2 linked regions of the Homo sapiens genome follow. The protein of the gene in region 1 purifies or fractionates together with the protein of each later gene. This does not show direct contact. Each region holds a gene or a part of one and is shown on either strand. Other genes may lie near its edges.

Region 1 (2,376 bases):
CTAATATTTTGTTGTATCCACATTAGCAACACAGTTCCAGGACCAGCTATCTATTGTTGTTATGTGGGATTAATTTGGCTTATTAACAAACTTATTCTTCCTCCTTCCATCTTGGTCTCTCCCTTTGTTATCCTATTATTTTCTGTCTTCAGCCAAATCCCTAACTGGGTCTTTAAAAGAATTTCTCATTTTTCCAACTAAATAAAATATGTGGGCTTCTAACTCTTCATGTTCCATCAACATGTGAAAATATCAAAATCCAACAATTAGCAGTATTAGACAAGTAATAAAAATTAGATATATCGCTTTAAACCTGAAGAACAAAAATTATTGACTTTATATATGTATGTATATATGTAAGTCTGTTTGTATTTGACCCCAAACTATACTTTAAGATTCAAATCAAAGTTTTAAGTCTCCCAAACACAGACACTTTTAAAAAGGCTTTTGCATTTCTTGTACATTATCAATTCGAAACAGGTTAACGACTGAAATCCAGCTTTTCTCATTTTTCAGGACACTTGTCAAAACATGTTAAACACACACACAAAACAAAATAGATTTTAAAAATTTAATGTATTATTACATTCATTTCCAGTAGAATACATTCACGGCACTATCACATCTACTATTCTTTTGAACTGGCCATTCCTTCTATTTACATAGCTTTTCACCTCTCAGAGGTTGGCAATTTAAGAGTTGTTATTAAAATAATAATTTACCTAGATGCTGATTTTTTCCCAAGTAAGGATTAAATATCCAAAACAAAATGTATAACTACACTTGTTGATACTTTATATTCTACTTTCCTATTTTAACATTATGAAAACCTGGAATTTTACAATGTAATCTTAGAATCTGCAAGTATTAAAAGTACATTTAGAGTAAAACTGAATTTCAAGATGCTCTATTTCATAATAATCAAGGTACATTATTTTCCATATACTTATGTAGCTCGAATTTTATTATGTATCTAAATGTCCTCTGTCAGTTTTAATTTGGTTTAAATTCTTGATACCAATAAGCCTTCATCAATTCCTAAGAAAATCACTGCTCATTAGTAAAATAAAGTTTTATCTGACAGTTATCTTTTATTTAAGTTAAATAAATGTTAAGTATCTAAAATTTTAATTAACAATATTTGGTAAATTAAATTTATTCTTATCATTCCTTCTTTTAATTTTGTCTATATATATTTTTAGTAATAGCTTCTAGTTCCTTTTACAGGGAGAATCGTCCTCTGCATTATATAGTACAGACTGTTGTAATTAGTTATGTAACTTTCACTAATTAGGTAAATTCACCTTTCACAATTTCTTTTTCCTTATCTATAAAATAAGGAAAGCTAATTTCATATATTATCCTTAAGGTCTCTTGTAGCTCTAGCATACATTAGTAAAGATGCAAATTATACAAATTTTGATATTCATAAACTATAATAGCTATTAAATCAATTTCAAAATAGCCTTTCAAAATGTGACTTTCTATGTTGCAAAATTGTGAACTACTATGTTTTGCTTTCTCTAGAATCTTACTGATTCAGCTCTAAAATATACTTACTTTGTCAAGGCTTCTTAGAATGTGTTGAAATAAGGTCAAAGCCAAGATATATTTGAGCATAATAAATAGTATTGGTAATGATTATACAATTTTTTGTTAACACAGATACATCACTCATCACAAAATGAAATAAAGCCAATGTTTTAAATTAAATATGTAAATCTGCCTGGGACTTATTTAATATCCGACCTTTGAGGAGAATTCCTTTCAAGTTTAATTTCAGTGCAAAAGCAGAGAATCTTGGTTTGTCTTAATAACAGCTTTAGGTATAAGTAACATATAAGTAGATATGTTAATTAATTTTAGGTCTAAAAGAGAGGTCCCAGATATAATAGTATGCTTTTCTCCTTCCATGAGGGTGTGGTATTGAGATCACTATTAAATTATTAAATTAGAAAATTCTTAACACTGGTCAAATTAGACGAGTGGCGACACTATAACACCTCCACTGCTAGAACAATGGAACCCCCAGGAAAGAGCAAGTGGGACTACAATGGGGAGATGAACAAAAACCATATATTGACAACTTAAAGGTAACAAAAGGACTAAAAAATCAATGCCAGCTAACTCAAGCTAATACAAGCTAAAAATTCATTAAAATTACTTTGATTCATTTCTCAAATCAGGAACTTTCTTCATCATCAGTTTAATGCTTACAAGAGGCACTGAAATTTATGCACATTTCTAGAACATCTTTCCAACATGATGTCTCTTATTAGAAAAATGGTTTTGTGAGATAAAACTGTGAAGGAAGAAAAGAAACCAAGAGAGAAAAAGTTCAGAGAAGACTGACCCAAATTTAACATAATCTGAGGC
Region 2 (3,658 bases), on another chromosome or scaffold:
AGAGCAAGACTCCATCTCAAAAAAAAAAAAAAGAAAGAAAGAAAGCATTTCTGTCACTTGCAACCCACTGAATTCTAAGTCATTTGCTCAACTGTCCATTCATTCATTCAGCACACATTTATAAAGCATTGTTTCAATGTCAGTAGTCGGTAATTTTCTTTAAAATATTTCTGCATGGACAGCATGACACCGTGGGTGCTGCCTGTGACGCTGCTGTCAATGACACATAATGGGGGTAATGTGAATTGTACACTGCCCCCAGCTGCTTGCAGTTGGGCTATTCAGGAATCCTCAGCCCAGGGGCACTCAGCTGGCATTTTATCAGAACAGCCACACTCCAGAGGCCCTTCTGCAAATGCTGCAGCTGTCCTTATCTCACAGGGACACCAGAGGCTTTGTTAAATCAGCATAAAGAATGTCAGAAATGGCTTTCCATGAGTGGAATAAGTGACTTCTTGTTTTTTTTTTTTTTTTTTTTTTGAGACAGAGTTTTGCTCTTGTTGCCCAAGCTGGAGTGCAATGGTGCGAACTCAGCTCACTGCAGCCTCCGCCTCCCAGGTTCAAGCGATTCTCCTGCCTCAGCCTCCTGAGTAGCTGGGATTACAGGCGCATGCCACCACACCAGGCTAATTTTTTTTTTTTTGTATTTCTAGTAGAAACGGGGTTTCACCATGTTAGCCAGGCTGGTCTTGAACTCCTGACCTCAGGTGATCTGCCCGCCTTGGCCTCCCAAAGTGCTAGGATTACAGGTGTGAGCCACTGCTCCTGGCCTACTATCATATATTAAAAACAGCCAAAGACAGGAAATCAGGCAGTTGGGCTGCAGTGAGCCATGATCACCCACTGAACTCCCCGCGTGGGCGACAGAGTGAGACTCTGTCTCAAAAACAAACAAACAAAACAAAAAAACCCCAAAGAATTGAGCAGGACAGAATGGGTGCCCACTGCATGGAGACACTGCTCCTGGTGCTGAGAGGAGGCCTGCCCTCAGGATGCCCTCCAGCCTCACCTTTCATCCAGCTTAGCGGGTATTCGTGCCGGCAGCTGGCGCTGACGCAGTGTGATGTGTAGAAGGTGCCGTGCGCCTCCACCAAGTCCTCCTGTTCCAGCCCGGCTATTCGCTCCAGGGTATCTATGTTCTAGAGGGAGAGATGGAGGGAAGAGGGGTGAGGAGTGAGCCACCCCTTGTAGGCCAGAAGGCACAGTAGGGAGTTGAGGGCCACGAGGAGCAGTGAGGTGGTGGGGACAGGTGGAGAAGGGAGGGAGGAGAAGCAAGTGGCAGGGTTTATCTGAAGACTCTTCTGTTCATCCCAATGGTGCCACTTAAAGGGTGACAGTCAAGGCTGCTTAAAGGCAGGGGCCAGGCTGGGCATGGCGGCTCACGCCTATAATCCCAGCACTTTGGGAGGCTGAGGTGGGAGGATCACTTGAGGCCAGGAGTTCAAGACCTGCCTGAGCAACATATCAAGACGCTTGTCTCTACAAAAAATTAAAAAAAAAAAAAAAAAAAAAGGGGCCCAAACCTAAATATCTATGAGGCCAGGCCCACAGCCACTCCACAGCCTGTGTGGCTTTTATTCTGCAAATTCAGGCCATTTGCTTTCATTTTTCAGAAAAAAAATGTTGTTTTATTAGAGCCAGATGCTTTATTTCCACCTGTCATTAATTGCTGAAATTAACATACATTTACAATGTCTCTGTTATTAATGGAGCCCCCTCAGATGTGGCATCCTTGTGCAGTGCGCACCCTGCACAGCTGCATGTGGCAGCTCTAGGCAAGCATTAACATAAATGAATCAGGAGGGCTTACTAGGTGTGGTTTGTTTGTTTGTTTGTTTGTTTGTTTTTTGAGATGGAGTCTTGCTCTGTCACCCAGGCTGGAGTGCAGTGGCACAATCTCGGCTCACTGCAACCTCTGACTCCCAGGTTCAAGAGATTTTCCTGCCTCAGTCTCCCAAGTAGCTGGGATTACAGGCACGCACCACCATGACTGGCTAATTTTTGTATTTTTAGTAGAGATGGGGTTTCACCATGTTGGCTAGGCTGGTCTCGAACTCTGGACCTCGTGATTTGCTTGCCTCGGCCTCCCAAAGTGCTGGGATTATAGACATGAGCCACTGTGCCTAGCCATGTTTTTTTATGTATTTGAGACAAGGTCTCACTCTGTCGCCCAGGCTATAGTGCAGTGGTACAATCATAGCTCACTGCAGCCTCCAACTCCTGGGCTCAAGCAATCCTCCCACCTCAGCCTCCACATCTGGCTGATTTTTAAAATTTTCTGTAGAGATGGGGTCTCACTATGTTGCCCAGGCTGGTCAGCGAGCCTTCTGCCTCAGCCTCCCAATGTGCTGGGATTACAGTGTGAGTCATCATGCCTGGCCCTTCCTTGGCTTTAATCACTATCTTCCCCTTTAGTAGCCAGGGTCCTTTCTTACTATGGCCTGTTTCATAGATGGCATATTCACCTGTGTTCTTTTCTTTTTTTGGAGGCAGGGTCTTGCTCTGTCACTCAGGCTGGAGTGTAGTGGTCTGATCACAGCTCACTGTAGCCTTCACCTCCTGGGCTCAAGCCATCCTCCCACCTCAGCCCACTGAGTAGCTGGGACTACAGGCAAATGCCACCATGCCCGGCTAATTTTTTATCTTTTTAATTATTTTTGTAGAGATGGGGGGTGGGGTGGTCTCCCTATTTGCCCGGGCTGGTCTTGAACTCCTGGGCTCAAGTGATCCTCCCACTTCAGCCTCCCAAAGCGTTGGGATTACAGGCGTGAGACACCATGCCCAGCCACTGTTTTCTTTTCTTTTCTTTTCTTTTTTTTTTTTTTCAGATGGAGTTTCACTCTTGTTGCCCAGGCTGGAGTACAATGGCGCTATCTCGGCTCACTGCAACCACTGCCTCCTGAGTTCAAGCAATTCTCCCTGCCTCCGCCTCTCAAGTAGCTGAGATTACAGGCACCCGCCACCATGCGTGGCTATTTTTTTTTTTTTTTTTGAGACGGAGTCTTGCTCTGTTGCCAGGCTGGAGTGCAGTGGCGCAATCTTGGCTCACTGCAAGCTCCGCCTCCCAGGTTCAAGTGATTCTCCTGCCTCAGCCTTCCAGGTAGCTGGGAACACAGGCACGCGCCACCATGCCTAGCTAATTTTTGTATTTTTAGTAGAGACGGGGTTTCACCATGTTGGTCAGGATGGTCTCGATCTCCTGACCTCGTGATCTGCCCACCTCAGCCTCCCAAAGTGCTGGGATTACAGGTGTGAGCCACTGCGCCCGGCCACTGTTTTCTTTTAAGACAGTGAGACTTTCCATATTAAACAGGTGGGAATGTTCTTTTCTGCACAGACATTTGTGCGCGCTCATTTTTCTTAAAACAACCACCCCCTTTGGAGCAGCTGTTGTTTGCCTGTGAGGAATGCCGCTAAAACAGGTGCTGACAGAGGACACTGGCAGAGGTTACGCAGAGATGGCTCGCATGTGTGGCCCAGGGCCAAACTGACAGCGTTTCCCAGGGACTCCAGAAACAACGGGAAGGGTTTGTTTCCCTTCAAGGGCAGAAAGAATGCTCTAACTGCCTTCTGGGCTCCCTACCAGCAACCACCTTATCTCCAAAGCCTACAGACAAGAGTCACTGTCACTGTTCCCACACGCCCTGTAACTTTCCTC

The links. The genes of interacting proteins can lie anywhere in the genome.
Region 2: the proteins of NUDT12 (region 1) and SIRT2 purify together in Homo sapiens (affinity purification with mass spectrometry; 3 studies listed by BioGRID and IntAct, with this or other methods). This does not show direct contact.

Annotation. Positions count from the first base shown.
Region 1 is NC_000005.10:103,548,298-103,550,673, forward strand, and holds the end of NUDT12 (NAD-capped RNA hydrolase NUDT12), read right to left. Parts: 3' UTR 558-2,376; downstream 1-557. UniProt on the Homo sapiens protein: mRNA decapping enzyme that specifically removes the nicotinamide adenine dinucleotide (NAD) cap from a subset of mRNAs by hydrolyzing the diphosphate linkage to produce nicotinamide mononucleotide (NMN) and 5' monophosphate mRNA.
Region 2 is NC_000019.10:38,882,618-38,886,275, forward strand, and holds part of SIRT2 (NAD-dependent protein deacetylase sirtuin-2), read right to left. Parts: intron 1,140-3,658; coding exon 1,010-1,139; intron 1-1,009. UniProt on the Homo sapiens protein: NAD-dependent protein deacetylase, which deacetylates internal lysines on histone and alpha-tubulin as well as many other proteins such as key transcription factors.